Linked DNA regions of Homo sapiens. The protein of the gene in region 2 interacts with the protein of the main gene of each other region in a biochemical or structural test. Each region holds a gene or a part of one and is shown on either strand. Other genes may lie near its edges.

Region 1 (10,904 bases), on a different chromosome or scaffold from region 2:
TCCACTACCTTCTCTCTGAGTGTCCTTGGACAAAGTTATGAGGCTCCCTGAATTTTATTTTCTCCTCTTTAAATTGGAGACACAGATACCCTACCCTATAGCATCTTTCTGAAGCCAACTGAGAAAATCCATGTAAGAACATGAAAGAGCAGGTGATACAGGGAAAGTGATACAGGAAAGTGGTACAGGGAAAGTGCATGATTATTAGTGGGTATTCCCTACTACTGTTTACTGCAGAATTCCAACATGAATCAAAAGGCTTATGTAACTGCCAAAAAAAACAAGGAAATCAGAGATTCCACCAGTGAAACCATAGTTCTCTGCAACAGGAGGTAAAACATCCACCATGCATCATCAGGTCTGGGCACCACATTTCAAAGACAGACACTAACAAACCAGCCTGTGTACCTGGGAGAGCATGGCTACATAGGTGAAGGTGCTGAGCCATGACACTGTTGAGGATATAGAGGCTGCAGTGTAAGAGTCCTCTCCTAGTGTAGAGGCTGCAGGGTGAGAGCTCTTTCCTAGTGTAGAGGCTGCATGCACTATGCGATAACTTGCATGCTTGCAAGCATGCACACATAAAATGGGTGACTATTCATGTGAGTGTCTTGGAAGCAAGTTTTTCCCTCAACAGGCAATTGGGCTGCACCATCTCTAAGGTTTCTTCCAACACTAAGAAACTCTAGTTCTATAATCATAAATTAGCATAAATTATCTTATTAGCAGCAGTATACATTATATGCCTCCAGTCCTTCAAAGCATTTCTGATGTTTTTACCTCCTTACTCTACCTTCAGCTCTGCCTGACCAAAGTAACCCCCATCCACATTTTCCAAATAATTCACCTCTGAAAAGAAGTTACTTTTCTGGTAAGACACCCATGAAGACTTACCCCAGTTTCTGCAGGTTACACTGTGGATTCTTGGCTTTTTCACATAAAATTGCGACTCCTGAGTCTCCCAAGGCATTCTCCCCCACATAGAGTCTGGTCAGGGAATGGCTGGTGCTCAATACTGATGCAAGATCCTGACAACATGCTGATGTGAGGCAGCAGCTGACCAACCTTCCATAGAGATGGCAGAATGTCAGTCATGTCTCTCACCCACGCTCCACCATGGACAAGGAAGCACCCGTACCTGCCACTGCCTCTACTCCAGTTTACACATGGAAAGGGAGTGGACACAAGCTCTATGTACACTTCTGATTTCCTTTTCCATTTGGTGGAATAACAAGTAAGCATTCTCCAAGCTCCCACCAATACTACATCTTCCCAGCTCCCTACATTCAGCTTTATTGTGGTAAAATACGTGTAAAATAAAATTTACCATTTTAACCATTTTTAAGTGCACAATTAATGGCCTTAAGCACTTCACATTGTTGTGCAACCATCACCACCACCATCTCCAGAACTCCTTTCATCTTGCAGAACTGAAACTCCATAACCATTAAACAATGTCTTCCCACTCTCCGCCCTCCCATTGCCTGCAACCACGTTTCTTCCTGTCTCTATGAATCTGTCTGTTCTAGACACCTCCTATAAGGACAATCAGAGTATTTGCCCTTTCGAGTCTAGCTTATCTTACTTAGCATAATGTCCCCGAGGCTCATCCATGTTGTAGTGTGTACTAGAATTCTTTTTAAAGCTGAATGTACATATATAGCACTTTTCAACACCCTTCATCCGTTGAAGGACGTTTGGTTATTTCCACCTTTTGGCTATTTCTAATAGTGTTGCTATGGACATAGATGTACAAATAACATGTTTGAGTTCCTGCCTTCTGTTTTTTTTAATGCTTCCTCTGTCACCCAGGCGGGAGTACAGTGACGGGATCTTGACTCACTGCAACCCCCGCCTCCCAGGTTCAAAAGATTCTCTTGCCTCCACCCCGAGTAACTGGGATTACAGGCATGCACCACCATGCCTGGCTAATTTTTGTATTTTTAGTAGAGACAAGGTTTTACTATGATGGCCAGGCTAGTCTCGAACTCCCGACCTCCAGTGATCCACCTGCCTCAGCCTCCCAAAATGCTGGGATTACAGGTGTGAGCCACCGCTCCTGGCTGAGTTCCTGCTTTGAACTCTTTTGCAGATATACCCAGCAGTGGAAATGCTGGCTCCAGTAGTAATTCTGTATTTATTTTTTAGGAATTGCTGTGCTGTTTTCCATAGTGGCTGCATCATTTACATTCCCACCAGCAACACACAATGGCTTCCATTTCTCCGCACCCACACCAATACTTGTTGTTTTCTAGTTTTCTTGCTTTTGTTTGATAATAGCCATCCTAATGGGTGAGAAATGGCCCTTCCATTTTTAAGTGGTTTTTTCTCTCCTTCAAAATGCAAGTCTCCCAGAAGCACTCAGGGAAGGGCTGCATACAACATCGAGGGTCTGCATTGCTTTAGCACCATTTTTCTTATACAATATGAGGACCCAGGGCTTGTCATGAAGTTCTAAAACTCCTCTAAAGCAATGCATTACACTGATTTTTTCTTTTTGTCAGCTAGGCAGTAGGCACCCTAAAGGCAGACATCTTCTTTTTGTTATTATTTATGCTCCTTGTCAGGGTTGAGTGTGTGGCTTTCCCCACGACAAACACTCACTGACCGCAATGCTAGACACCCCAAGACAAGCACACGCAGTCACCCGAGCCGCCAAGGCCATTCTCACTCAAACCCCAGCCCACCGGGCCTCACTGAAGCCAGAGTGCGCAGCACGCCTCGCTGGCAGAACTTCCTTAGGGGAACGGGCTCGACTCACCAGAGCTTCTTCAGATTGCACAACAGGTGCTTCAGTCCCACACACAGAAGTCTGATTCCGAAGTCACCGAGGGCGTTGTCACTCAGGTCCAGCTCCACCAGCTTCTGGTTGCTGCTGAGGACCAAGGAGATGTCGAAGCAGCACTCATGCGAGAGGCCACAGCGCCCCAACCTTCATGCCAAGAACAGAGGCAGAAAGCATCAGAACACACCTGACCAGAGAGCTCCAGAACAGAGGAAGCATCAGGACACACCTGATCAGGAAGCTCCGGAATAGAGAAAGCATCAGAACACATCTGATCAGAGAGCTCCGGAATACAGAAAGCATCAGAACACACCTGACCAGAGAGCTCCGGAATAGAGAAAGCATCAGAACACATCTGACCAGAGAGCTCCAGAATAGAGAAAGCATCAGGACACACCTGACAAGAGAGCTCTGGAATAGAGAAAGCATCAGGACACACCTGACCAGAGAGCTCTGGAATAGAGAATGCATCAGGACACACCTGACCAGAGAGCTCCGGAATAGAGAAAGCATCAGGACACACCTGACCAGAGAGCTCCGGAATAGAGAAAGCATCAGGACACACCTGACCAGAGAGCTCTGGAATAGAGAAAGCATCAGGACACACCTGACCAGAGAGCTCTGGAATAGAGAAAGCATCAGAATACACCTGACCAGAGAGCTCCGGAATACAGCACAAGGCACATTGGGAGGTCAGCCCCCAGTCTCCCCAGTCACAGCAGAGGGATCACCTGTCAGTGAACTCCCGGCCGTAAACAGTGCCGGGTGCATTGAGATCACCCCCCAGACATGTGAATGGTGCGCTCCTGGTTTGTAAGTGAAGCGGGCGGTGTGGGCCTGTGCACCCACCTCCTTCCCTCGTGTTCCTAACCATTGACGTGCCCGCAGTCGGCACTGCCCTCGCCAGTGCTGCACTCAGCTATTTCTTGTCTTCACCAACATTGTCACCCCATTGTGTTTGACGATTTCATCCCAGCCCTCCATCTATATTGAAAGGAAAAGCAGCTCTGATTCTTTTTCTTTTCTTTTCTTTTCTTTTTTTAAAGACAGGGTCTCACTTTGTTGCACAGGCTGGAGTGCACTGGCGAGATCATAGCTCACTGCCACCTCGAACTCCTGGGCTCAAGGGATCCACCTGCCTCAGCCTCCCAAGTGGCTGCAAATACAGGCATGTGCTACCATGCTTAGCCATTTTATTTTATTTATATTTTATTTTTATTATTATTATTATCTTCTAAAGACAAGGTCTCACCAGCTTGCTCAGGCTGGTTTTGAACTCCTGGGCTCAGGTGATCTGCCCACCTCAGCCTCTCAAAGTGCTGGGATTCCACATCCCGCTGCAGCTCTGATTCTTGATTAGTTTCCCCGTCACACACATGCACACAAACACACACGCACATCACTACCACCGTCACCACCACCACCAGCAACAAAAACTATACTTTATCCCTGTCATGGGGGCAAGAACAACATTCTAGCTTCTTTCCAGGGCAATAGTTCATAGGTCCTGGAGCCTGTTAGACCACCTTCCTTTCTGTCCCTATCCTTACACCAACTTCAAGCAAATGGACAAATGGATCTCTACTTCTCTGCGAAGCATCTCACTGTCCCCTACCCTTCCCTGTTTGTGTCTGCCTCTCCAGAATCATACAGGGGCAATGGCAGTGGGGAGAGAATTTGGGCATGAAGTTGGAGAAATAAGGTTAAATGTCCCAAACAACCAGTCTCCATGGCACTACGATTTGAAATTTACCAAAAGAGCAAAGATGAAGAGTGTGATCTATATACATAATGGAATACTGCTCAGCCATAGAAAAGAATGAAGTCACATCTTTGAAGCCACACAGATGGAACTGGAGGCCATTACCTTAAGTGAAACAACTCAGAAACAGAGTCAAATACCACACGTTCTCACTTACAAGTGGGAGCTAAACAAAGGGTAACATCCATAGAGCATGGAATGATAGACACTAGAGCCTCAGAAGGGTGGGAGGGTGGGAGCCAGGTGAGGGCTGGAAAATTATTTATTGGGTACAATGTTCACTATTTGGGTAAGAGTTACACTAAGGCCGGGCACGGTGGCTCACGCCTGTAATCCCAGCACTTTGGGAGGCCGAGGCGGGTGGATCACGAGGTCAGGAGTTTGAGACCAGCCTAGCCAATACGGTGAAACCTTGTCCCTACTAAAAATACAAAAATCAGCTGGGCGTGGTGGCCCATGCCTGTAATCCCAACTACTCGAAGAATTGCTTGAACCCAGGAGGTGGATGTTGCAGTGAGCCGAGATCACTCCACTGTACTCCAGCCTGGGCAACACGGCGAGAGTCCATCTCAAAAAAAAAGGGGTAGTTACAGTAAAAGCCCAGACACTACCACTGTGCAGTAACATATCCATGAAACAAAGCTGCTCTTGCGCCCCCTACATCTACAAAAATAAATACATAAAGTAAAAAATAAAGAGCAGAGCAGACAGAAAGCATTTAAGCCACCGAACAGCACAATCGAATCAGAATTTTCTAAAGGACCATCTTACTTTTGTGCAGAGAATGGTCGGGTGAGGGAAAAAGGCAGACACAGGGAGACCAAAGAGCCAACATTCATTCAGTGCGTGCTTTTGACCACTGATGGGTACTAAGATGTCTGTCCAGGCGTGGCAAAGATGACAGCAAGACAAACAAACGCAAACCCCATCCCCGGGGAGCTGATGGTCTAGGAGGTCACTGCGTGTCCAGGCAAGTGGTGACAGTTGCTGGACCTGGGCTGGTGGGGTGAGGACGAGGAAAAGTGGAAAACAGCTCGGGTAGGAGGAAAAATTGATAAGACTGGTGACAAGGTGAGTGTGTTGAGCCGGAGAGGGAGGTAGCAAAATGTCCTAGAGTGGCGGACTTTAACACTTGCTGTGCAGCTCCTCAAAAATGCAGACGCCTGCATGCGTCCACAGAGCAGGGAATGAAACAGAGCTAGTGAGGCGGCCCAGGCACCAGCGCGGTGGGGCGTGTGAATCTGATTCATGGTGTGGGAGAAAGCAAGCACATTTTTTATTATTATTATTATTATTATTATTTTGAAATGGAATCTCGCTCTGTCACCCAGGCTGGAGTGCAATGGCACGATCTCGGCTCACTGCCATCTCCGCCTCCCGGGTACACACAGTTCTCCTGCCTCAGCCTCCCGAGTAGCTGGGACTACAGGTGTGAGCAAGCACATTATTAATAAAGTCACAGGAGATTCCCTGTGACATTTCAACCCATACAAAGCATTCTGACCAGGCTGGGCAACGTGATGAGACCACATCTCTACAAAAAAAATACAAAAATTAGCCAGCATGGTGGTGCATGCCTGTAGTCCCAGCTACTCGGGGGAGCTGAGGTGGGAGGATTGCTTGAGCCTGGGAGGTCGAGGCTGCAGTAAGCTGTGATCACACACTCCAGCCTGGGTGACAGAGAGAGGTCCTGTCTCAAAGAAAAAAAAAAAAAGTATTTTCATAGTTTTTAGGTGAGGTTGCCATTGTTGTAAATGGCAAATTCTCCAACTCTCATCTATGAACATGGCCCATGAGGAAATGGAATATATCGAGCATCATGGTTGTTTCAAGAAATGACTTTTTTTTTAGTTCCTCATTCATTCTTCCCCACACAAAACTTCCCCAGCTGGCCTCCAACCCATTCTACCTTCTCACTTGTTCTGGGCTGAACTGTGCCCCCCCAAAAATTTACATGTTGAAGCCCTAATCCTCAAGACCTCATAATGTGGCTGTTTTGGGAAATGGGGTCTTTAAAGGAGTGACTAGATTAACATTAGGTCTTGTGTAGTCATGCCTGACTGTGCCTAATCCATCAGGACTGCTGTCCCTGTAAGAAGAGGAGACTAGGCCACTCTTCCCCCCAAGGCAAGATGGCATCAGTACACAGGGAGAAGGGGGCATCTACAAACCAAGGAGGGCGGCCTCAGAAGAAACCAACCCTGCTGACACCTTGATCTTAGACTTTCGGCCTCAGAACTGCAAGAAAATGAATTTTTGTTGTTGAAGCCATTCAGTCTGTGGCACTTTGTTACAGCAGAAACCACACCACCGGCCGGGTGCGGTGGCTCATGCCTGTAATCCCAGCATTTTGGGAGGCCGAGGCGGGCGGATCACCTGAGGTCAGGACTTCGAGACTAGCCTGGACAACATGATGAAACCCCATCTCTACTAAAAATACAAAAAATTAGCTGGGTATGGTGGTGGGTGCCTGTAATCCCAGCTACTCAGGAGGCTGAGGCAGGAGAATCACTTGAACCCAGGAGGCAGAGATTGCAGTGAGCCGAGGTCACGGCATTGCACTCCAGCCTGGGCAATAAGAGCAAAACTCTGCCTCAAAAAAAGAAAAAAAGAAAAAGAAAAGAAAGAAACCACACCAGCAACCTGGTCCTGAAGATCTTTCTCCAGTCTGTTTCTCTCTCTCTCTCTCATATGAACTTGCACTCACACAGATCACATGCACGGGGACTCACCACAATCTCCGAATGTTACAGCCAGGATGCTGGAGCGTTTCACACAACACTCTCATCCCTGGGTCCCCCAGAGAATTGTCACTGAGGTCCAATTCAGTTAGACTCTGGCTGGTGCTCAGAACTGAAAAGAGGCCCCGGCAAAAACTGGAAGTGAGGTGGCTGTTCACCAATCTAGGAATTAGAAGGAAGACAGACAGAAAAGAAATCAGCCTCGAATAATAACTAACTGGAGCTGGGGGCCGGGGTGCCTGGCACCAGTTCAGAGAAATGCCTTCCGGGGATTAAGAAATGGGTCACGAAACCAAAAATTGTTCCCAGAGAAATGAAGAGGGCTGGATGAGCCTTGGTAAAAGCAGTTCTGCCTCCTCTCGGACGGAGAGCATGAGCCTGTGACTGTGGCGGACTGTGGCACCCTACAGCCTGCTCCCCAGTGTCCTCCTCTCGCCCTTACCAGTCCACTGTCCCAACATGGCCCTGAACGTTCTGTGCTGGGTGATCAGAGGGCAGTCCTCACTCCTGGCTACACAACAGCATCAGGAGTGCTCACAAAAATCCTCAGGCCAGGCTGGGCATGGTGGCTCACACCTGTAATCCCAGCACTTTGGGAGGCCGAGGCGGGCAGATCACCTGAGGTCAGGAGTTCAAGATCAGCCTGGCCAACATGGTGAAACCCTCTCTCTACTAAAAATACAAAAATTAATTGGGTGTGGTGGCACGAGCCTGTCATCCCAGCTATTAGGGAGGCTGAGGCAGGAGAATCACTTGAACCTGGGAGGTGGAAGTTGCAGTGAGCCAAGATCATGCCACAGCACTCCAGCCTGGGCAACAGAGCAAGACTTCATCTCAAAAAAAAAAAAAAGAAAAAGAAAATCGCAAGCCCAGGCCACATCCATGGAAATAAAATCAGAAGCTCTGAGGTGGAACTAGATGAATTTTTTAAATTTTTTTTCAGATGAAACCCAAGCTGGAATGCAGTGCCATGATCATAGCTCACTGCAGCCTCAAACTCCTGGGCTCAAGCAATCCTCTTGCCTCAGCCTCCCGAGTAGCTGAGGTTACAGGCACGAGTCACTGTGTCCAGCTATATGGATCTTTTTTATTTAAAAAAAGCCAGGTGGCTCCAACATGCAGTCACATTTTTGCTTTTGTTTTTCTGTAGAGAGGTGCTCTCACTTTGCTGCTCAGGTAGGACTTGAATTCCTGGCTTCAAGCAATCCCCCCATCTTGGCCTCCCAAAACCTAGGATTACAGGCAAGAGCCACTGCACCCACACATGCAGTCACCTTTGAATCACCTGTAGCTCTCATTCAAATGCAAAGTCTAGCTCTCTAGGTCTAAGATTGGGTCCACAATCCTGCATTTCTAATAGATGCTCAGGCTTCTGGTTCTCAGAAGGGACTGGAACATACAAAGCAAGCTCCTGCCCTCAGAGTAAGGCAGCTGCCATCTAGAAAGATGGGTGCTGAGCCCCCTACCAGGGCTCCAGTCAGAGTCTGTCCTCAGAGTAAGGCAGGTGCCATCTAGAGGGATGGGTGCTGAGCCCCCTACCAGGGCTCCCGTCAGAGTCTGTCCTCAGAGTAAGGCAGGTGCCATCTAGAGGGATGGGTGCTGAGCCCCCTACCAGGGTTCCAGTCAGAGTCTGTCCTGAGGAAGGAAGGTGCTATCTAGAGAAATGGGTGCTGAGCCTCCTACCGGGGCTTCAGTGAGAGTCTGTCCTCAGAGGAAGGAAGGTGCTATCTAGAGAAATGGGTGCTGAGCCCCCTGCCAGGGCTCCAATCAGAGTCTGTCCTCAGAGGAAGGAAGGTGCTATCTAGAGAAATGGTTGCTGAGCCTCCTACCGGGGCTTCAGTGAGAGTCTGTCCTCAGAGTAAGGCAGGTGCCATCTAGAGGGATGGGTGCTGAGCCCCCTGCCAGGGCTCCAATCAGAGTCTGTCCTCAGAGGAAGGAAGGTGCTATCTAGAGAAATGGGTGCTGAGCCTCCTACCGGGGCTTCAGTGAGAGTCTGTCCTCAGAGGAAGGAAGGTGCTATCTAGAGAAATGGGTGCTGAGCCCCCTGCCAGGGCTCCAATCAGAGTCTGTCCTCAGAGGAAGGAAGGTGCTATCTAGAGAAATGGGTGCTGAGCCTCCTACCGGGGCTTCAGTGAGAGTCTGTCCTCAGAGTAAGGCAGGTGCCATCTAGAGGGATGGGTGCTGAGCCCCCTACCAGGGCTCCAGTCAGAATCTGTCCTCAGAGGAAGGAAGGTGCTATCTAGAGAAATGGGTGCTGAGCCTCCTACCGGGGCTTCAGTGAGAGTGTGCAAACCTTCCTCACAGATGTGTGATCTTCATAAGGTCTCCCTGCCCTCTCCACCTTCCACCTCACTCTTAATGAGTAGTTCTGCCTACTTTTCTCTCTGTCTTACTCTTCTTCTCCCATTTCTATGGTCTGAATGTTTGTGTGCCCCAAAATCCATACGCTGAAATCCTAACCCTCAACATGACGTATCAGGCGATGGGGCCTTTGAGGTGTGGTTAAGTTATGAGGGTGGAGCCCTCAGGAGTGGGATTGCTGTCCTTAGGAAAGGGACCCCAGAGAGCTGCCTTGCCTCTTCACCATGTAAGGACACAGTGAGAAGGCACCATCGACCAGGGAACAGGCCCTCACCAAACACCAGATCTGCCAGAGCCTGGATCATGGACTTCCCAGCCTCCAGAACCGTAAGGTGAACCTTCCTTTTGCTTATAAGCCAACCAGCCTGCAGTGTTTTGTTATGGCAACCTGATGAATGAAGACAACTGTCTTTTTTCCAGTCACTCGGAACTGTTTGCTGCCGTAGAAACCGTACCCTGCTTTCCCACACCTGCCCTCTCTCTCAACACCGTAAGCCCCCAGCCTGGCTGCCCCTTTCCTTCTCTCACTCTCTCACTGCCCATCCTCCGGAAGCTGGCTGAGCGGGGACACCCACCCGTGCCCCGCTGGTGAACAGGTTCGTCCCCTTGTGCTTTGGATACTCTGCAAGTTTCCTTGTCAGAGCCCATGACCCCCTCCCCGACATCTGCACTTGTTTCCGGACTGTCCCACAGCCAGACCTCAAGTCCCTGTGACCAGGACCTGGGTCTTCACCACCACTGCGGCCCTGTGGGCAGTCAGTCCTTCATGGCCAAACCATGACTAGGAAGGTGGTCCTGGTCATGGTAATGTCAACGGATCAAGAAAGCTGAAACTCATTGTTGCCTGTGGAAGGGCCAAGCCTCCTGTTTCCCTTAATTTTGCCCCACGTCAAGTGTCTTCTATCCAGGCTAAACTCACACATCACAGGGTGGCCACCTTCCTACAACCACTGTGGGTGGTCCTTCTGCAGGAGGCACTGAACGATAAACCCAAAAGGGACTCAGAAGTCAGGTGACTCAACCACTTCATTGCACAGACTTGGCCACTAGCTTCCAACCACCCAGCAAGTGTGTGAACAGACCCGAAAACGGGGTTTTGGCAATGCCCAGTGCAGAGCAACATGGGGGCCTAGAAAGAGGGTCTCCACATTTCTGCTCTATTTCCCTTGATTTACCTTCATCATGTTTTTTTCCAAGGAAACTGTGTCTCTCTCCACTGTCACCTGCACACACTTTTTCTCAGACTGCATTCATG
Region 2 (10,904 bases):
TAAGGTAGATGCCTGGGTTCTAACATAGAAAATATCAAACTGGTTGTTAGATGAAAAAAGCAAGTTGCAAAGTGAGGTAATGTGTAAATGCAGTAAGCAAAATACATCATATATATAGTACTTTCTATGTATTTACCTATATGAGCGTGATGCCTCCAACTGCATAGCTGTGGCTCCGGGAGCAGGACCTTGTAACAGAGCCTCTGCCCCTGACTGTCCTGAGGGGCCTTTCCCTGGGAAAGGAACCAGGTTTGATTTTCAGTCTCTTTTGTTATCACCATGCTGACAGCTTTGCTTGTCATATGCCTTTCCCTCCGCTGTACTGATTTTACCTTACAGAAGCTCTCCTTAGTGCTTCATCAGACACTCCCTCTTTTCCAAAGAAAAGACAGCCGCATTCCATGGTCATCTGGTTGAGCTCGAGGTGAGCCCCAGGGATCATGTGCCTCCCACCAGGCTGACACCCCAGTGGTGAGGAGTTGCCCCTTGGCTTTTTCGAGGCCAAGCAACTCAGAGGTGTGGCAGGATTGCATGTCACAGTGGCACTTCCAAGGCCCTGGAGAGTGACTCAACGCCTCTGTTATTAAGATGTCACACAGGCTGTGCAGCAACAACTCTAGGGACACCCTTCACACTGACAGAGTTGGCAAGCTTTTCCTATAAAGGGGCACACAGTGAATACTGTAGGCTTTGTAGGCCATACTATCTGTCCCAACAATTCAACTTTGCCCACTGTAGCTGTGAATCAACCGTAGATAATATTAAGTGAATGTGCACTGCTGTTTGCTAATAGTTTATTGACAAAAACAGCTGCTTTTGAGCAGTTTGCTACCCCGACAGAGACTGTGGGGAGTCCCTGGTGGCAGCGAGCTACAGGCAGCCAGTACCCCATCAGTGTGGCTGGTTCCATCCTCTCAAGCCTGCCTGCACCCAGACACTGTCGAGTGTGTCTTCAGAAAAACTCCTAAAATTCCCCAAAAGCACAGTGGCTCCCCGAGAGCCACCTCCCTCACCTTCTTACAGGGGCAGGTTCCTCTTCCGGTTCCACCCTCCTCAGCACGGAGCTCAGGGGCCATCCCCACCTCCTCTTGGCCGCAAGCACAGACCTTCCCACACAGGCTCAGCAGCTCTGCGGGCCTGTCCCCCACCTGGAGCTGCAGGCCTCCACTCCTGGGGACAGCTGTGACCATGGCTCTGCAAAGCAGCCTTGTGCCTAGCTCCCAAGTCAGCTGGCAGCCCAGAGTGGAACAATTCTGTGGATCACCTCTGAGACAGCAGCACATCTGGGCAAGCCTGGCTTCCCACCCCTCACCTCCTGCAACCTCTGACCCTTGCCATGCATGTGGTAGGGAAGCTGCAACCAGGCCTCAGCACTCCCAGACCTGTGGGCGGTTTGCTGTCTGAGGATCGTGGCACTGCCTTCCCTCAGAGGCCTTGCCAGAGCCAGGGGATGCAGCGTGGCAGAGCTGTCACTGGCAACCCTGCTGGTCTCCCTGGTGCTTTCTCAGCTGGGCTGTGGGTCAGGACAAATTTCTATGGATAAGGCTGGATCATAATCTAGTGCTCCATGGTCATGCAGCGACAGACTCGAGTCTGCCTTCTCTCAGGGTGGTGAGCTCAGGTAGGAACGGGATGTTTGAAGCAAGCACACCTGTGAGAAATGCCTGTTTTCACTCCCATCCCACACACTCGTCCAGACACTGCCAGCCCACCCCCGACACACGTGTCTGAGGGAGGCTGAGGAAAACAGACACCTCCAGGAGCCGCATACTATTTCCTGATGTGTAAGCCAGACAACCCTGGAAAGGAGGTCAGGGAACCGGAGTGCCTGCCAACGTCCCCAGCCTCCCTGCAGCAAAACACTCTCATGGCAAAACTCCTTTTTAAAGAAAGGCTTTATTGCTGCAATTAGACATCCCAGTGTATAGCACAAACCCCCCTGTACAGAGAATTATTCAAGTGGTAATACTGAGAAACAGTGAACACACACAAAAGAATACAAAACTAGACATTTAGATCACTAGAAACTTTCTAAGGTAAGAAAAATTTCAAATGTGAAGTGCCTTTTAGAAACTACACCACACATGCCAGTGTAAATTTGGTTTAACAATCAATTTCTATAAACATTGCATCTAACTGTGCACTGATCAACTGCACAACTTCAACAATTACTTCCAAGACAAAGATAAATGCTTTTATTTCCCTATGTTTTGGTCTTTCCTTGGGCTAGAGACAGAAGCTGCATGTTTCAAACCAGATTCAAAAGGGAAAGCACTTCAAAACAGAAAGTACTTCAATTGTGTATTTGCCTTCAGCCACATCCAGAGACTTGTGGATCTCACCCGGTTGGTCCCAGCCCTTCTCCAACCCTGAAGCCCACAGCAGGGGTGCAGAGGCAGCCCCAGATCGTGCAGACATCACCCGAGGCTCCCAAACTGGCCCAGCTGCCTGAGGCCTGCATGCCTGTGGCCAGGTAGGACACATGTGCAGGTTTGAAAACTAGGCCTACAAGACTGAAGAGTGGACTGAAGCAAAAAGGGGAGAAACATTAGAGGCCTACAGTAGGAAGAGACCTTTTATAGAGTTTTCAGGAAATTCTCACAATAAACTTGGGCACAAAGACCAAATTGCTGAGGCCAGAAGCCTGCTTATGGTACTGTGACTTATGGGGAGTAGAGGCCAAATCAGAGAGGGCTGGCTGGTGATACCCCAGACCACTTGCCTCTTCCCCTTCCCTGGCCTACAAATACCAGGCCTCCTGGCCCTGAGACCTCATTCTGGGTTTCTATATGGGTCAACCAAATGCCATCCTTTCACTAAACCCAGGTGCAAAATGGGGGGGGAAGGGGGGAAGCTGGGGAGTACACAGCACCCAAAAGAACCGAGAGAGCAAGTTTTCCAAGGCTACAGGAACATTGGCAGAGCTGGTGGCCACACCAGATGGGAGTACCACATCCCCACCAGGCTTCATGCTTCACTGCTAGATGCAGGGGGCTAGAAGGGTCTGATGAATCAGGAGCTGAACTAGAACCTTCAAGAAAAGAAAAGGCAAGGGGGTGGCTCTGTGCCCCGCCAGGAGAGGAAAGAAGAATGTGTGTGGATTGTCCACAGTGAGGCCAGAAACGATGAGATGGTGTTAGGCAGAAAAGAAGGGAGAGGGCTTCCCATGAGAATCTGGCTGGGCATGGGAGGGATACAGGGCTCAGTTATCAAGGCACCTTTGCCATAGTGGGGTGCCAGCTACATTGGGTGGGATGCCCAGGGGCTGTCCCTACCTAAGCACTTTCTTGTCTACAGGAAGTCTTGGTGCTTTTCAAGTTCAGCATAAGGGGTTCCATATGTGAAGTGGGGATTCACACTTAGAAAATCTATCCTGGTCTTCACCTGAAACACTCATCTACTGCTGGGTGGCAGGAACAAGTATACAAAACCAGGGGCCTTGCCTGGGCAGTTCCTAAGGGACATTGGCAGGGCTGACCTGGGATTCAGCTCCCCTGAGTGGACAGTCTGTGGTTGCCTGGGGTCCCCAGGCTGAGAAGGGGTATGGGTAATTGCACTTCGGGGCACAGTGAACACAGGCACGGGCTGGATGTGCCCTGGGAGACAGAAAGGAGAGGCTGACCTATTCTCAGGAGCTGGCTATGGCTGGACAGTGCCTGCCCGGCCAGAGGAAGGCCACAGCAGAGCCACTCCACAGACTAAGACCTGTGTTGCCAAGGAATCAGACACTGGCTTGGAGGAGACAGGAGGACAAAGCCTGCTGCTATTAAGCCCACACCGTAGCTTAGAGATCCTTCAGCCTCCTGGCCTTCAAAACAAACTCCAGGGCTTCCACTCTGAAAGGCAAAGGAATCACCTCGTGTTTGCTTCATCCCCTTAGCAGGATGAACGAAACGCCTAAGGCCCAAAAAGACTGAGGGCAGGACCCCCAGCATCTCCCATCTCCTCCGTGCAGGCTGGGTGAGAGAATGGCCTGGAAAGGAAGCATCTGCGCTACATTGTGCTTCAGGCCCCCCCAGCAACTTTCCCGGAGGTAACTATTTGCCTGGAAAACTAGGAAACTGGGTTTTAAAAACAGAATTTTAAGCAGACTTTTTAGAGGGACAAGGCCATTTGATGGTAGTGATTTTGGTTTTGTTTTATGAAAATGGTACAGGTGGTAATCCCTGATGACAGAATGCACTGAGAGTGGGGCCAAGGGCCCTGAAGGATCCTGTCTGTTCAGTCTGGTTAAGGCGACAGCTGGGCGGGCATGTGGCCGGGGAGCAGTGGCACAGCGGACCCTGGCAGTTTGCTCACACCTGGCCCTCGTCCCAGAGCCAGCCCACCTGCCTCTTGGCCCTGGTAGTGACTCCACAGAACTTCCCCGAGCAGAAGCCTCACAGTGGGCCAGCACCCATCTTGCATGCAAGGGAGAACCTGCATGCAGTGCACACACCCCGGCCAGGGTGGCACATGGCTGCTCTTTCAATGTGAAGCCAACACCAACTGGAGAGATTTAACTATAAAGGAATATTTTTTAAATATTCAGTTTTGTTGTCATTACTCACTTCCTTTCCTTCCATTTCGATCTCAGAAACTGTTCTTTTTCAGTGTTGACAAAAAAGAAATGTATGGGCCAGGTCTACAAAGTAACACCTTGTCATAAAACAGGCTCAAAAGCATAGGAATCATGCTTTAATTGCCATTTAGCATCCACTAATTCCCATGAGATCTGTGATTAAAAAAAAAGCCTCTGGCCTGCTTGTCCTGTCTTAAAAGTCATGAGTCTGTTTTATGAACAGAAAGAATGCCACGCTTCTTAGCATATGTAAGGCAAAATGGATTTTTGATCTCTCATGATGTAAAGGAGATACAAAGGTAAGGAAGGGAAGATTTCTAAGTGAGACTTTTTTTGAGTGTCAATCCCGCTGGACACACATATTACAAAATAAAGATTTTCTTCTGTAAAGTGCTGTTTGCTCAGTGAATCATGCGCCACCACAGAGCACCATGGCTCCACCTGCTCAAGAGCATGGAGGAGGCAGCATCGGCAGAGGGCAGGCAGGAGTCTGTGTTTGGGGGTCTGTTTCAATACCATCTCCTGGGGTTCGCCGTGATGCAGAGGGAATCTTCTCGTCATGGCTAGACACTCCCCAATGCTCTGCTCCAGGCTGGGGACCACTGCAAGCTGGAGGCGGCTGGGTATCAGGGCCTGGGCACCCCTGCTCCTCCTCTTCCCTTGGGATTGGCATTTTATTCTCTCATTCAGCTCAAGACCATGGGCAGGAACTCTGCTGGCTCCCCATGATGTCATCATGGGGTCTTCCACTTTCCCACAGAGCTGCCAGGCAGAGGCAGGACCCAGGCATGCCTGGCCCACAGGAAGGTTTTCTAGGAGACTAAGGAGGGTTTAGAAAAAGAGAAGCCACTATAAATAGTCACCTGTCCAGTCTATGCTATTAAAGGACATAAGAAAGGTATACAATTGGCAGTAAACAATTTCCTTCAGCTCTTCATGGATGTCCAGGAAAATGACAACCCGCACACAATCAGACGTGAATGATTTCTGCTCCAGTGTCTTCAGGCTCTGTGCAACAAGAAGAGTTTGTGTCGGAATGACAGATTCCATATCCATGTTTATTTTCAAAGTTGGGCTCTGTTAGTGGAGATTTTTCAAAAATATTCTTTTTGCTTGTTTCTGGACAGTTTTGAACATAGATCACTCTATTATAGGCCTTGAGTCTCTTCCACAATTGCACATACACTTTACACTGAACATACATAAAAAGAAGTCCTCCGGTGAAGCCGATGGCCACAACCACCAATTTAGTCCAAAAGGGCCATTCTAGGATTCCTGGAAGGGAAAAACTCAGCCTATTAGATTTTATTTAAGATATGAAGTAAAGAAAAACACAACTTCTGAACTTCCCATAATCAACTGATTCTTTGTTGTTGTTGTTGTTTTTTAAGAGATGGAGTCTTGCTATGTTGCCCAGGCTGGAGTGCAGTGGCTATTCACAGGTGTGATCATGGCACACTACAGCCTTGAACTCCTGAGCCTCAGCAATCCTCCATCCCTCAGCCTCAAGTATCTGGGGACCACAAGCCTGCACCACTGACCAATGGATTCACAACTCATCCAATGTTGCTCAGTCAAAGAAGAGTGGAAGACAGTGTCCAGCTACTTCCTGCTTTTATAGGATGTAGTTTGCGGAGATTCTCATGCTCCAGAATATGAACTCTCCTGACTGGGTTTCAAAAACTACCACCACAGCAAAAGAAATGCCAAAAAGGAGGCTAGTGCCTCCTAACTGATGTCCCTCCTCCGGAAACCCAGACGTTTTTGGCTAACTGGAAAATCCTCTGACCCCAGGACTCCTGTGAGCTATCCCGGCCCCCATGCTGAGCTTGCTCCAGCCTGAGAACTCACCTGTTGCCTGCCCCTGCTTGATCTCCTCAGCAGTACGGTCAATGAGCACATACAAGGACCAGACCACACATGTGATGGCAATGACGTGGAATGTCACTGAGCACATGATCTTCCTGCGCTCGCTGGACGTCATCTGCAACTTCTCCCACTAGAAAGACAACACAGAGTGTGAGGCTCAGGCTTCTGGGGAAGGGCTCCGGTGGGGTGAGAGCATTGTAGGTAGGTAAGATTGGCTTTCCACCCCACTTCTCCCTTCCCAAACTAGATGCATTCCCCCAAGTATTGTTCTCCTAAAACCACTTGGCTTCAACCAGGTACCAGGTGCAGCCAACTTTCTATGCAATGAAAAGAAGCCAGGATCAAGATGAATGCAGAACTACCATCAAAAATCCCCTTGTCTGCTTATTCTTGCAAGCAGACATAAGATGGCCTGATAAAGAATTCTATGATTTCAGTCCTAATGAAAACAGTATGTTGGCCCAGGACCCAGGTACTACGTTTTAAGTCTCCCTGATGTGCTGACTGGCATGGACGAGCGGAAGAAGAGGGTTGATGATGCCACAACACACTAGCAGATGGGTCACACTACATTGTGAAGGTGAATGGCAGAAGACGCTCACTCTTTGGTCCTTGCTACTTTGGCAGCAACAGCTCGAAATCGACGCTAAGAGTTCCTGGTACAAGCAGACTCTGCTAGTCCCATCTCCTCTAGGAGCTCATTAATTTACTCCAAATAGCCAGACTTTCTTTTTCATTTACTGGTTTCCGAATCAGGAGAAAACACATAAAGGTAGAGAGAAAGAACAATGTGTAAACACTCTGCACATATCCTTTGCCAACCCTAGTCACAGCCTCTTTCCAGATGAGTCTATGCAGGGTAGTTGAAAATAGAGCCTCAAGGACTTCCCATGTTGAGAGATTAGCATAGAGTAGGCACCCAATAAATTACAAGGTTTCTACTGGGCAAAACATTTTTTTAAGCAGTTTGCACAAGCCTTCTCTAAATCTGGTTGTTTTCTGCTGGGATTTTATACACTAGCAAGTTCCCTGGTCTTCCTACCTATAATACAGAGTCAGTGCCTCAGTGCCCCATGCTCCCTGCTACTTCCTACAACGCACGTAGCTTGACACCCTGTCAATGTTCACCTTCACCTTTCTAGGGTATGCTTTACTCCACAGACAGCCTGACCTCTCTAAACTCCTTGCACTCTGCCTCCAAATCCTAGTGATCCTTCAAGAACTGCTCTAAAACCCAAACACCCTATGAGGCTACCATCGCTCCACTTCCCCAGCACTCTAGCTCATAATGAGCATTTCCTTTTCTGAATGACTGTTATGCTCTACCAGCACACCATTTAGCATTTAATTGGCTAGTATTTGATTATGTGACTTATCTTGCAATTTATATATTAATGTTCTGAGATAGGAACAGTTTTTTATTCTTCCAGACAAAACCTTTTGTGCTGGGCATCTAGAGAGATATATGAAACAGTCAAAATTTAAACAGGAAGCCAGTGTGGCGGACAAAGCTCCTCTCAGAGGGAGCAGTGACATGGGCCTCCAGACAGCTGCGTGTCATGCAATGCCTGTGGGTCCTTTCTGAAGACAGTTGCACATCACGCAACGTTTGTGCTTCCTTTCTTTTCCCTATCCACCTACTCACACTCCCATCCAGCAAATAGTTATCATGGGTGTATACAAATAAATTTACTGTATGCTACACTGTGCTGGGTGCTGGGGAGATACTAATCTCCAACAGACAGTCCTAATCAGAGAAGCAGGACGTCAACAGTTAATATGTATAAAATTAGGTGCTAAGATATGTCACAAACAGTCTGTAGTCAAAGGCCAGAGGACTGACACCGACAAGCAAGCAGTCTTACTTTGAAGGGAAAAGAAGGATTATGAATGGTCAGAAAGAGCTTCTTCCTGAGAAGAGGGACTTGAAAATCAGCACCAGAAACAACAATCTCTACAATGCAAATGTAAGCACCAGCCCCAGCTTTTTAAGGAAATGAACGCAGGCAAGCCATGACCTCATGATCTGAGACACCAGCTTTCTGGGGGTCACTGGTTTCAGGAAGGGTGAAGCATCCCTTCCTCCCACGTACTTTTCTCAGTGGCTTCAGCTTGGTCTCCATGATGAACTCATACTTGCAGAGCTCGCAGCAGCGCGTGTCGGAGCTCTTGATCCACTGCTGCAGGCAGGCCTGGTGCACGAAGTGGAGGCTTCCTGTGCAGTGGCAGGGGGTGATCAGGGGGCTCTCATCATCTCCTTCACAGTGGCAGATCCTATGGTGGAAGGAAAACCTGTCATTCCAAGGACAGTCCCATGACAGGGAAGCTGACACTTCAGTGGCAGGTTAATCCCCCCAAAGGAAACTCAGAAACGAACATTACAGAAGTGACTATGGGCACAAAAACATACAAACACAAACGAAAACAATCACTACAAACTAAAAATGTCTAGCTTACCGCACCAACATGGAAAGTCTGGAGGGCATTTGGCAACAGAAAGGAAAAAACGATGTAAGAAATGACAAAGCTGTCATTTTTTGGTAAGAAATAAGAACTTCACTGAAAGATGAATTTAAAGCAACATGGAATCATTTTCCAGAACATAAGATGGTAAAATAATTAGAGGGAAAATTTCTATGTAAAACAAAACCTGCATTCCAACATCCAAAAATACCAGTGACCTTAAATGACGTTTGCTTTTTAGCTATAATCACTGACTTTACCTTCATACCCCACAACTACACATTTCTGTCGTCTCTCAGCAAGTAAACAAAGATGACAGTACCTCTCTCCTAGACCTAAAAAACTCACCATTACAAGATGCTGCAATTTCATCTCTTTTTCTTGGGACCACTAATAGCAATAAGTGAGAAATTAATTTGAAAGCACTCTCTATTTCCAAGGAAGTATGCAACAAGGTGTAGCTACTAGCCTGAAGGAACTTAACAGGCTTTTAAGAAACAGAGGGGTCTTTTCCAGCAGCTAGAGAACAGGTTGGGGCACTCGTCCTGGAAGGAGCCAGGCTCTCAGGCTGTTTTAGTGAGGGGATCTCTGATCCAAATGTTAGAAATGATGACAGCTGGCACTAAGGAGCGGAGACTGGAGAAAGGTCAGAATGAGGAGGGCACAAGAGTCATGACAAAAAGTGAATTATGGAGGCCAGACAAGGATGCTGCACAAGGGAAGATAAAGGGGGGAAACAGAGTTAGGATGGGACATAGGTGGCTACACCTCAGTTAAAAAGAAGGAAGGAAGGAGCTACTGGAGAACAGCCAGTCCCCACACACCTTTTGGGGGTAGGTAGGGAGCAAGGGTTAAAAAAGAGGCTGGGAGATGCAACAATGCTTAAAATCTGGACCATCAGGCTGGAAAACTGAAGATACTAGTTTCTTTCTTCCAGTTTCTTTATGCAAAGTCTACTTATTTTTAGTTTAGAAGAGTCAGCTTGGCCTTTAATATGTGTAGCTTCTTCCTCTTTTTTTTTTTGTTTTGTTTTGTTTTTTTTTAGACAGAGTTTCACTCTTGTTGCCCAGGCTGGAGTGCAATGGCGCAATCTTGGCTCACTGCAACCTCCGCCTCCCGGGTTCAAGCAATTCTCCTGCCTCAGCCTCCTGAGTAGCTGGGATTACAGGCGCCCGCCACCACGCCCGGCTAATTTTTGTATTTTTAGTAGAGACGGGGTTTCGCCACGTTGGCCAAGCTGGTCTCAAACTCCTGACCTCAGGTGATCCACCCGCCTCAGCCTCCCAAAGTGCTGGGATTACAGGCGTGAGCCACTGCGCCCAGCCAGCTTCTTCCTCTTTTATCATTTGTAAAACTATCTTGGGACTCACATCATAAAAATTAAGTTTTTCAAACGATATTGATACTCCATTCTTCTGGAGAAAACCATCAACCCACAACTGGTTACAACTTCCTATTACTTCATTTTCCTGAAACTTCACATACTAAAGCAAGAGGAGGTTCCTGATGCGAGCAGAGATGGCTAGAATGGCACTTCCTGGCAAACCAACCTGCAGACATCCCCTGACGTGGACACGGGAGATATGGGGGGTAATTTTTCAGAGAAGGGAGAAGGACAATCCAGGTCGCTGTCCTTTTCCGTGGAGCAGAGGGGCGCCCGCAGAACCCTACTCTTCAGTTTTGCAGATGTGCTGTCCTCAAAGACATCGTCGTCTCCCATCTCGTCAGAGCAGAAGCCCATACTCCCTGCCAGCCCGCTGGAGGACTTGGCAGTGTGCAGGCGAGCAGCGCAGCTCTCCAGCTCATGGAACCTGTGCAGGCTGCTGGCGCTCAAGCCGTGCGAGAGTGAGAACAGGTACTGGAGCAGTTGCCGGCTTCGGGACGTGGCCTCACCATCCGCCTTCTCTTCCAGCAGCAGGCCGGGCCTGCCCCCCTTGCCAGCTTCCACCTCTGAGGCAGTTGAGCGACCGGCAGAAAGGCATGAAACACAAGAATGTTTGGAATTGCCAAG
Region 3 (10,904 bases), on a different chromosome or scaffold from region 2:
CTCTTCAGCTTCATTTCATATAACTTCATCTTTTCCGAAAGAGTCTCTTTTTGTTCCTAGATCTTTCCAAGCTCTTTTTTTCTGCCTCAGGGCTTGGCTCCACCACCCCATTCCACCCTAATTGCTATCACTTTTCCCAGTTTATTCCCTTCAGAGCACTCACTGCAATTTGTGTTGTATGTTATTACGCTATTAGATTAAGAGCTTTATCTTGCAAGCACAGACGTACAATTAATAACAAATGGAAAAAATGATTATCTTGTATACTGGAAAGTAGTAAGTGCTGTTGTGAAGAAGTATAGCAAAGTGAGAGGGATCAGGAATGTGGGAGATGGAGGTGGGGGGGAAGTTGCAATGTTAAGTAGAGTGGTAAGAAGAGAATTCCATTAGAGTTTGGGAAGAGCCAGGCGCCGTGGCTCACGCCTGTAATCCCAACACTTTGGGAGGCCGAGGCGGGTGGATCACGAGGTCAGGAGTTCAAGACCAGCCTGGCCAAGATGGTGAAACCCCGTCTTGACTAAAAATACAAAAAACTAGCCGGGCGTGGTGGCGGGTGCCTGTAATCCCAGCTACTTGGGAGGCTGAGGCAGAGAATTTCTTGAACCCAGAAGGCGGAGGTTGCAGTGAGCTGAGACCGCGCCACTGAACTCCAGCCTGGGCGACAGAGTGAGACCCTGTCTCAGAAAAAAAAAAAAAAAAAAAAGAGTTTGGGAAGAAGAGAATGAACAAAAGGAGACTATGAGTGTTTTGTAGAAGGAGCGGTCAGTGTTTGGAATGCTACTGACATCCAGAAATCCAATGGATTTGTTCTTTGGTCTTGTGGGGTTGACAAGAGAAATGTCAGTGGGGTGATGGACACAGAGTGAAAAGGCAGGGTTGCAGTGGAGATAACATGTGTAGGCCACTCTAGAAAGTTCTGTCTGGGCTAACTGTGGTGTCTCAGCACTTTGGGAGGCCAAGGCAGAAGGATTGCTTGAGCCCAGGAGTTCAAGACCAGCCTGGGCAACAAAGTGAGAGTCCATCTCTACAAAAAAAAATTTTAGGCCAGGTATGGTGGCTCATGCCTGTAATCCCAGCACTTTGGGAGGCCAAGGTGGGCGGATCACAAGGTCAGGAGTTCAAGACCAGCCTGGCCAAGATGATGAAACCCCGTCTGTACTAAAAATACAAAAATTAGCCAGGCGTGGTGGCAGACACCTATAATCATAGCTACTCAGGAAGTTGAGGCAAAAGAATTGCTTGAGCCTGGGAGACAGAGGTTGCAGTGAGCTGAGATTGCGCCACTGCACTCCAGCCTGAGCGACAGAGCAAGACTGTCTCAGAAAAAAAAAAAAAAAAAAAGAAAGAAAAAAGAAAAAAACATTTTTTTAATTAGCCAGGAGTGGTGGCATGTGCCTGTGGTCCCAGCTACATACGATGCTGAGGCAAGAGGATTGCTTGAACCTAGGAGGTTGAGGCTGCAGTGAGCCATGTTCACGCTACTGCACTCCAGCCTGGGTGACAGAACGGGACCCTGTCTCAAAAAAAAAAAAAAGTTTGGGCTGGAAGGAAGCAGAAAGATGGGTGAGTATGGAGAGGAGGAAGATGTGGGGTGAAAGGAGAGGTATACCCTATAACCCTTTGTATGAATTTCAGAATAATCTAGCAGGGAGGGAGAGATGGCTGATGTAGGAGAGGAAATACTTGAAGAGCATGGTACTTGAGAAGTTGAGAAGGAAGGGATCCAGAGACTATGGGCAGAGGTGGCCTTTGAAAGGTAGATGGAGGGCCAGGCACAGTGGCTCACACTTGTAACCCTAGCACTTTGGGAGGCCAAGGTAGGCAGATCATTTGAGCTCAAGAGTTCAAGACCAGCCTGGCCAACATGGTGAAACCCTGTCTCTACTAAAAATACAAAAATTAGCCAGGTGTGGTGGTGCATGCCTGTAATCCCAGCGACTCAGGAGGTTGAGGCAGGAGAATCACTTGAAGCTGGGAGGTGGAGTTTGCAGTGAGCTGATATCACACCACTGCACTGCATCCAGCCTGGGCTACAGAGCAAGACTTTGTCTCAAAAAAAAGTAAGGTAGATGGACACTTACTTCCTCAGTGGTAACAGGAGAGGTGGCCAGGTTTGGGTAACAGGTGGCCAGGTTTGCAGATTTTTCTAGCATTTTCTCCTTTGTGCTCTACTTCGTCACTGTGGAAGTCTTATCTGACAGTAGTAGTCTTTACTGCTTATAAACCCCCAACTCCCAAAGCCATCTAAATTTCTGACCATAGCCACCCACCCAGCAGCCATCTCCACTTGAGTGTCCCACAGGTATCTAGAGCTCATTGTATCTCATGAAGTTCAGCTTGGCCCAATCTTTCTTCTTCCTGCTTATTCTATTTTGAGGAATGGAACCAACATCAGCCATTAGGCCTAGGAAGGCCAAGATCCTGGGATGGCATCCCAAGGCTCCTACTTTCCTCCTCACATCGTAGCCTCAACTCATGACCACTTATGTTGATTTGGACTTCTTTAGTTGCTCTCACTTCTTCCCCGTGTCTTGATGCTCACTACCTCTGTGCTGCCGTGGCACCCAGCCTCTGTGCCAGGCTGTTGCTGTGGTCTTTTTGCTGCCTGTCTCTTCCCTCTTGCCCATCTGGCCTCTCCTCTAGGCTTCCCTCCATTCTGCCATCTATAATTTGTAATGAAAATTTAACCAGGCACAGTGGCACATGCCTGTAATCCCAGCTACTCAGGAAGCTGAGGCAGGAGGATCAATTGAACCCGGGAGGCAGAAGTTGCAGTGAGCCGAGATCGTGCCACTGCACTCCAGCCTGGGCAACAAGACAATAAGAGTGAAACTCTGTCTCAAAAAAAAAAAAAAAGAAAAAGAAAAAGAAAAAAGAAAAGAAAAGAAAAGAAGAAAATTTAATCACAGCACTCTTAAACCTCAAAGTCTACAGAGACCCCTTCATCATATATGCCCCACACCATCTTGACAATGCCTCCCAATGGGAGATATCAGTAATTATTGTGTTTTTTGTTTTTTGTTTTTTTTTCTTTTTTGAGACAGAGTCTTAATCTGTCGCCCAGGCTGGAGTGCAGTCATGTGATCTCGGCTCACTGCAACCTCCGCCTCCTGGGTTCAAGTGATTCTCATGCCTCAGCCTCCCGAGTAGCTGGGATTACAGGCATTCGCCACCATGCCCGGCTAATTTTTGTATTTTTAGTAGAGATGGGGTTCCACCATGTTGGCCAGGCTGGTCTCGAACTCCTGACCTCAAGTGATCCACCTGTCTCGGCCTCCCAAAGTGCTGCGATTACAGGCATGAGCCATCATGCCCAGCCAATATTGGTTTAGTAAAATACTTTGCCTTTTAGAGCCAGTTTCTGTTTTACCACTAATGTTTACTTCATACTTAGCACACCAGAGATCTTCAATTATAGTTACATTATTTCCCCTGTATTTCCAGAGAAAATTGGATTAATAAATACTTTCTTTTCTTTTATATGTTCAACCAGATACAGATGTCATCATGAAGAGGAAAAGAGGAGGGAGCCCTGCTGTAACACTTCTTATTAGTGAAAAAATATCTGTGGATATAACCCTGGCTTTGGAATCAAAAAGTAGCTGGCCTGCTAGCACCCAAGAAGGCCTGCGCATTCAAAACTGGCTTTCAGCAAAAGTTAGGAAGCAACTACGACTAAAGCCATTTTACCTTGTACCCAAGCATGCAAAGGAAGGAAATGGTTTCCAAGGTATTTTAAATATTAAAGTTAACTTAAAGAAGTAAAAGAGTTGTTAATGTTATATGTTCAGGCAGTAAAAGATCAACAGCCAACCAATGCTGTTGTCATTTCAAGAGCCATCAGGCAAAATAGGTTATAAGATGGGAGTCTGGTGACAGACAGAATTGAAAAGGGCAAAGTTGTAGTATTAATATCAAATACTCAGCTTTAAAATGTCTAGCAATCCATATTTGAATTTTATTTTATTTTTTTCGGTAAAGAAAAGCAGTATTGGCCTTGGAGTCAGACTGCCCTGGTTCTGAATCCTGAGGCTCCTTCTACTAGTTGTGTGAATTCGAGCTAGTTATGATGCTTTCTAAACCCATTTGCTCATCCGTACACTGTGTTAACCAAAAGTACTTGAAAAATTCTGGAAAGATAAAATGTGCATGCAGTTCTGTGGCCAATTCTGTTCATGCCAGTTATACGTTATTACATATTAATATTATCATTAGAGTCTAGACTCTCATTCTCAGCCCTGGTTCTCTCTTTCCTTCATCTTCCCATTCCACTGCTCCTATGCAGCGTGTCTCAGCCTCACAGATCAGGACGGGTTTTCAGGCTGTGCTCTTGGGTAAAATTCAACTTCCAAGAAACAGACTGAGTTGGTCTACAGCTAAAACTTTATAATGGTGATATTTTTGAAGGTAGAAGGAAGTAACTTTTTTTTTTCTTTCTTTCTTTTTTTTTTTTTCCTGAGACAGAGTTTTGCTCTTGTTGCCCAGGCTGAAGTGCAGTGGCACAATCTCAGCTTGCTGCAACCTCTGCCTCCCGGGTTAAAGCGATTCTCCTGCCCCATCCTCCCGAGTAGCTGGGACTACAGGTGCCCGCTACCATGCCTGGCTAATTTTTTGTATTTTTAGTAGAGACGGGGTTTCACCATGTTGGCCAGGCTGGTCTCAAACTCCTGGGAAGTAGCTTTTTTCCTTGTGATTTAGTCTAAAAAAAAAAAGAAAGTAGCTGATTATTTTCATTTTCTCCCATAGATTTATATAGGACTTTTGGCACCTACTACTATTGGATTCCAGGGAAATTGAAGGAGACCATAAAACAAATGAACCAAGTTATAAATGAGTATTGCTGAAAAAAGCCCAGAAATAGTCAATCATGCTTAGTTTGATGGTTTGTGTTTTTGTGGACACACATCATAACTTCATATATTGCATACATAGAGGAATCATTTTCTGTAAGAAAAATAGTCTATGAAGGGTACTTACATATATCATTATTCATGTTTTTACAAAATGAATTATAGCTTTCTGCAAAGAGGTTGTTCTGCAAACTGAACAATTTTTAGAATAGCTGCCCCAGGAAACCCTCACTGTAAGTGATACAAAAATTGCAACAGGACCCCATACCATCTCTTGCTGACCCCATACTGTCCTGAGGAACACTGGAAGGTAAATCACCTTAGAGATGAAGAAGAGTCCTTTGGTGGCCCTGTGGCCTATGTGGTTAGGCAGTTCTTTTTTTTTTTTTTTTTTGAGACGGATTCTTGCTTTGTTGCCCAGGCTGGAGTGCAGTGGTGTGAACTTGGCTCACTGCAACCTCTGCCTCCTGGCTCAAGCGATTCTCCTGCCTCAGCCTCATGAGTAGCTGGGACTACAGGCGCATGCCACCACGCGAGGCTAATTTTTGTATTTTTAGTAGAGACAGGGTTTCATTATGTTGGCCAGGATGGTCTCCATCTCTTGACCTCGTGATCCACCCGCCTCAGCCTCCCAAAGTGCTGGGATTACAGGCGTGAGCCACTGCATCTAGCCATGGTTAGGGAGTTCTTTTCATTCTTCCATTAAAATGAAAGAAAGTGAAGGCTGGTGCTGGATGCTTAGCTTCACCTCTGCTTTCTGTTACCCTTGGCTGTTCTGCATCTGCCATCATTCCAGATTATGTATAATTAGACAAAACTCTGCTTCTGTGTATGTGTGTGAGTGTATGTGAACAGAGGGACTTAACAGTGAAAATACTTGTACTAGATTGGAGACACTTATAACACCTGCTATATCTTTTCTTTCTCTAAACATTCTACTAGAAATTCCCTGGTCTCACAAGCTATATTTTTAAAAATATTATGTTTTTGTTTTTATTTATTTTTATTTGTTTATTTTTTGAGACAGAGTCTCGCTGTGTCGCCCAGGCTGGAGTGCAGTGGTGCAATCTTGGCTCACTGCAACCTCCACCTCCTGGGTTCAAAAGATTCTCCCACTTCAGCATCTCGAGTAGCTGGGACTACAGGTGCGTGCCACCATGCCCAGCTAATTTTTTGTATTTTTAGTAGAGACTGGGTTTCACCATATTGGCCAGGCTGATCTCGAACTCCCAACTTCAGGTGATCCACCCATCTCCATCTCCCAAAGATTACAGGCATGAGCCACTGTGCCTGGCCTTGTTTTTATTGATTTTTGATTAAAAATTTTAAATTTTAAAAATTTACCTGTTGCAAAATAATACTAGTTTTATTACCAAGGATATAATTTATTTAAAGAACAGTTTATGATTTACTTGCAGTTTTTTTGTTCTTAAGATAAAAGGACAGTCAAAATATGAGGTTTTTAACCCACTCAAAAAAATGTTCAGCCAGGCGCAGTGGCCCATGCCTATAGTCTCAGCTACTCAGGAAGTTGAGGCGGGAGGATTGCTTGAGCCCAGGGGTTCAGGGCTGTAGTGAGCTATGATCATGCCACTGCACTCCATCCTGGGTAACATAGCAAGAAGTCCTCTATACCCCGCCTGCCAAAAAAAAAGTCTCTGGACAGTTTAACTCAACATAGGTAAATTAACTTGTTTCATTATGTTATCTGTTTTTAGATACTGGTTTTTAAATTTTGATTTAATTCGTTTCATAAATTTATAAAGCATATACGTGGTTCCAAAGTCAAAGCTATGGAAAAAGGTACAGTTAGAGAAACATCTTCTGTTCATGTCCTCTCCACACTCTTCTCTCCTTCCCTGATTAGAAACCTTTTTAATTGTTTTTAGTTTACCCTTCCATGTTTTATTTTTTATTTTATTTATTTATTTATTTTTGAGACAGAGTCTCGCTCTGTTGCCCAGGCTGGAGCGCAGTGGGGCAATCTTGGCTCACTGCAGCCTTCGCCTCCCAGGTTCAAGTGATTCTCCTGCCTCAGCCTCCAGGAGTAGATGGGATTACAGGTGTGTGCCACCACGCCTGGCTAATTTTTGTGTTTTTAGTAGAGATGAGGTTTCACCACGCTGGCCAGGCTGCTCTTGAACTCCCAACCTCAGGTGGTCCACCCACCTTGGCCTCCCAAAGTACTGGGATTACAGGCGTGAGCCACCGTGCCTGGCCTTCCGTGTTTTAAAAGTGTAAGTAAATATATTCTCTCTCTCTCTCTCTCATTCATGTAATGGCTCAAACCTATAATCCAGTACTTTGGGAGGCTGAAGTGGGTGGATCATTTGAGCTCAGGAGTTCGAGACCAGCGTGGGCAACATGGTGAAAGCCTGTCTCTACTAAAAATACAAAAATTAGCCAGGTGTGGTGGTGCAAGCCTGTAGTCCCAACTATTCAAGAGGCTGATGTCAGGGGATCACTTGAGCCCTGGAGGTTGAGGCTGCAGTGAGCCAAGATGGTGCCACTGCACTCTAGCCTGGGTAACAGAGTGAGACCCTGTCTCAAAAACAAAGAAAAAGGTGTCCCTTTTATTTTAAAAAGGGGATGGCATATAAATGTGTATATAGTATATAATATAAATTATATACAATGTTTTATATTATATGACATATTACATATAAATTATACATAATATATTACATGTAAATACTTATGTAAATATATTCATATAAATACTTATATTTAATATATATTTTTAAGATAAAGAAGTCAGGTAAAAACTAAGGAAATCTGGATAAAGTATAGACTTTAGTTAACAATAATGTATCAATATTGGTTTATTGTACCAATGTATTTTATGAATATGGGATGTTAATAATAGGGAAATGGGGGTGCAGTGGCATGTGCTTATAGTCCTAGTTTCCTCAGCCTTCGGGAGGCTGAGGCAGGAGGATCATTGAGCCCAGGAGTTAGGGTTGTTCTTCTTGGAGCTGAACTCCTGGGTTCAAGTGATCCTCCCGTCTCAGTCTCCCACCTCCCAAGTAGCTGAGATTACAGGTGCACGACACTGTAATCAGTGGACATGTTTTCAAGTGGGTTTAAAACTTGGTATTTTGACTGTCCTTTTATCTTAAGGACAAAAAACTGCAAAAAAATTATAAGCTGTTTTTTATAAGTGTATTATTGGTAATAATACTGGTATTACTTTGAAAAAGGTAGATTGAACATAAATATTAGATAATATAGTAATTTATATACATACAAAATATATTTGTATGCTACCCCCTTTTTAAATAAAAGGTACACTTTTTTTTTTTTTTTTTTTAAAGTAGACACAGGGTCTTGCTATGTTGCCCAGGCTGGTCTCAAACTCCTGGCCTAAAGCAGTCCTCCCACTTTGGCCTCCTAAAGTGCTGGGATTATAGGCATGAGCCATCATGGCCAGGACATATGTTTTTCTTTTTAATTTTATTAATTTGGTTTATTTTTTAATTTTATAGACGCCCTGCTCTCAGATATAACACTTTTTTTCTTTTAATTTAACAAGATATTTTCGATCTCACTCCATACCTCTATATAGAGAAAACACCCATTCCTTTTTAAAGTCTATTTTTACAGCTGGTCAAAGAGTAAATCGTTATGTAATATTGCTAGGCATTTCCCAGATCTCCATAGGCATCATTCCAATTTGCTTTTCCACAGCAATGTATCAGAGTACCTGTTTCACTCTCAACCTCACTGACTTGTTAAACTTTTTGCCAATTGAAATTCTTGCCAGTGAGAAAATGATATCTCAAAAAGTAAGAAATGATATCTCAGTGTAGTTTATTTAAAAATAAACTTTTTGTTTTAGCATAGTTTTGTATTTACAGAAAAATTGTGAAGATAGTACAGAGAGTTCCCGTATAACCCCATACCCATTCCCCTGGGGTTTTTTCTGGGGGAGGTAGTGGGGCAGAGTTTCACTATGTTGCCCATGCTGGTCTTGAACTGAGCTCAATGATCCTCCCACCTCACCTTATCAAGTAACTGGGACTACAGACACGTGCCACTGCAGCACCCCCATTTTCCTATTATTAATATCTCACATTAATACAATACATTTAATAATTAATAAACCAATATTGATATATTATTGTTAGCTAAGGGCTATATCTGCTGGGCACAGTGGGTCTTGCCTGTAATCCCAGCACTTTGGGAGGCCGAGGTGGGCAGATCACCTGAAATCAAGAGTTCGAAACCACCCTGGCCAACATGGCAAAACCCCGTCTCTACTAAAAAAATACAAAAATTAGCCAGGCGTGGTGGCATGTGACTTAGTCCCAGCTACTCAGGAGGCCGAGACAGGAGAATCACTTGAACTTGGTGGGTGGAGTTGCAGTGAGCCAAGATCATGCCACTGCACTCCAGTCTAGGAGACACAGCGAGACTCCATTAAAAAAAAAAATTATATACTTTATCCAGATTTCCTTAGTTTTTCTTAATGTCCTTTTACTGTTCCAAGATCCCATTTAGGATACCATATTGCATTTAGTTGTCATGTCTCCTTAAGCTACTCTTGACTGTGACAGTTTTTTGGTTTTAACAGTTTTGAGGAGTACTAGTTAGGTATTTTGTAGAATGTCCTTTACTTGAGATTTCTTTATTATGTTTCTTATGATTAGATCAGAGTTATTGGTTTGGGGGAGGAAGGTCACAGAGGCAAAGTGCCATCCTTATCAAATTTTATCAACGGTACGTGCCACCTTTCTTTACAGTCATGTACAGTTGACCCTCAGGATTGGCTCCAGGGTACCCTGCAGACACCGAAGTCCACAGATGCTCAAATCCCTTACATAAAATGATATAATACAGTTGGCCCTCCATATCTGTGGGTTTCAATTCACGATTGGTTGAATTCTCAGATGTGAAACCCTCAGATACAGAGGGCCAACCGTATTGTGTAGCTATCCCTGAACTCTTTATTCTGTCCCATTAAAATCTTTGTCTATCTTTGTACCATGTTGTTGTACATAATGTAGCTTTATAATTAGTCTCAATATCTTTTAGGGCAAGTTCTACCACTTCGTTTTTCTCCAAGGGTGTCTGAGAGAGTCTTGACCCTTTACATTCTCATATAAATTTTGAAATCAGCTTTTCAGATTCCACAAAATACTTTTTGGAATTTTGATTGAGATAATGTTGAATCTATAGATAAATTTGGGGCCAGGAATGATGACTTATGCCTGTAATTCCAGCACTTCAGAAGGCTGAGGAAGGAGAGTTGCTTTAGGTGAGGGGTTCAAGACCATCTTGGACAACACTGTGTAAAAACTCTAGCCAGGCGTGGTGGCTCACGCCTGTAATCCCAGCACTTTGGAAGGCCAAGGTGAGTGGATTACGAGGTCAAGAGATCGAGACCATCCTGGCCAACATGGTAAGACCCCATTTCTACTAAAAATACAAAAATTAGCTGGGCATGGTGGCACGTGCCTGTAGTCCTAGCTACTCGGGAGGCTGAGGCAGGAGAATCGCTTGAACCCAGGAGGCAGAGGTTGCAGTGAGCCAAGATCACGCCATTGCACTCCAGCCTGGTGACAGAGAGAGACTCCGTCTCAAAAAAAAATTAAAAAAAAAAAACTCTCTATAAAAGTTTTTATAGAGAGTTGTGAGTCTTCATCTCTATAAAAACTTTTTAAAAATTAGCCAGGCGTGGTGGTGTGCACTTGTAGCTTGTAGTCTTAGTTACGCAAGAGAATCACTTAAGCTCAGGAGTTCGAGGTTACAGTGAGCTATGATCTTGCCACTGCACTCCAGCCTGGGCAACATAACAAGACACTGTCTGTATTAAAAAAAAAAAACATGGGAGAGAGTTGATATGTTAACAATATTGAGTCTCCCAATCCACTTATTTACATCTCCTCTAATACTTCCCAGCTTCATTCATTAGCATTTTCTCTGCAGAGGTTTTGTATATCTTTTGTTAATTTATTCATAGGTAATTGATCTATTTTAAAACTATTTATTTATTTATTTATTTTGAGATGGAGTCTCGCTCTGTCACCCAGGCTGGAGTGCAGTGGTGCGATC

Evidence for each region.
Region 1: the proteins of MARCHF8 (region 2) and NLRP3 form a complex in vitro, tested with the Homo sapiens proteins (one study listed by BioGRID).
Region 3: the proteins of MARCHF8 (region 2) and CGAS form a complex in vitro, tested with the Homo sapiens proteins (one study listed by BioGRID).

The regions. Positions count from the first base shown.
Region 1 is NC_000001.11:247,426,131-247,437,034, reverse strand, and holds part of NLRP3 (NACHT, LRR and PYD domains-containing protein 3), read right to left. Parts: intron 7,451-10,904; coding exon 7,280-7,450; intron 2,933-7,279; coding exon 2,762-2,932; intron 1,066-2,761; coding exon 895-1,065; intron 1-894. UniProt on the Homo sapiens protein: Sensor component of the NLRP3 inflammasome, which mediates inflammasome activation in response to defects in membrane integrity, leading to secretion of inflammatory cytokines IL1B and IL18 and pyroptosis.
Region 2 is NC_000010.11:45,452,708-45,463,611, forward strand, and holds the end of MARCHF8 (E3 ubiquitin-protein ligase MARCHF8), read right to left. Parts: coding exon 10,444-10,904; intron 8,705-10,443; coding exon 8,524-8,704; intron 7,171-8,523; exon of another isoform or gene 7,033-7,170; intron 6,561-7,032; coding exon 6,413-6,560; intron 5,837-6,412; coding exon 5,532-5,836; 3' UTR 1,878-5,531; downstream 1-1,877. UniProt on the Homo sapiens protein: E3 ubiquitin-protein ligase that plays several important roles in innate immunity and adaptive immunity.
Region 3 is NC_000006.12:73,433,035-73,443,938, reverse strand, and holds part of CGAS (cyclic GMP-AMP synthase), read left to right. Parts: intron 1-3,493; coding exon 3,494-3,730; intron 3,731-10,904. UniProt on the Homo sapiens protein: Nucleotidyltransferase that catalyzes the formation of cyclic GMP-AMP (2',3'-cGAMP) from ATP and GTP and plays a key role in innate immunity.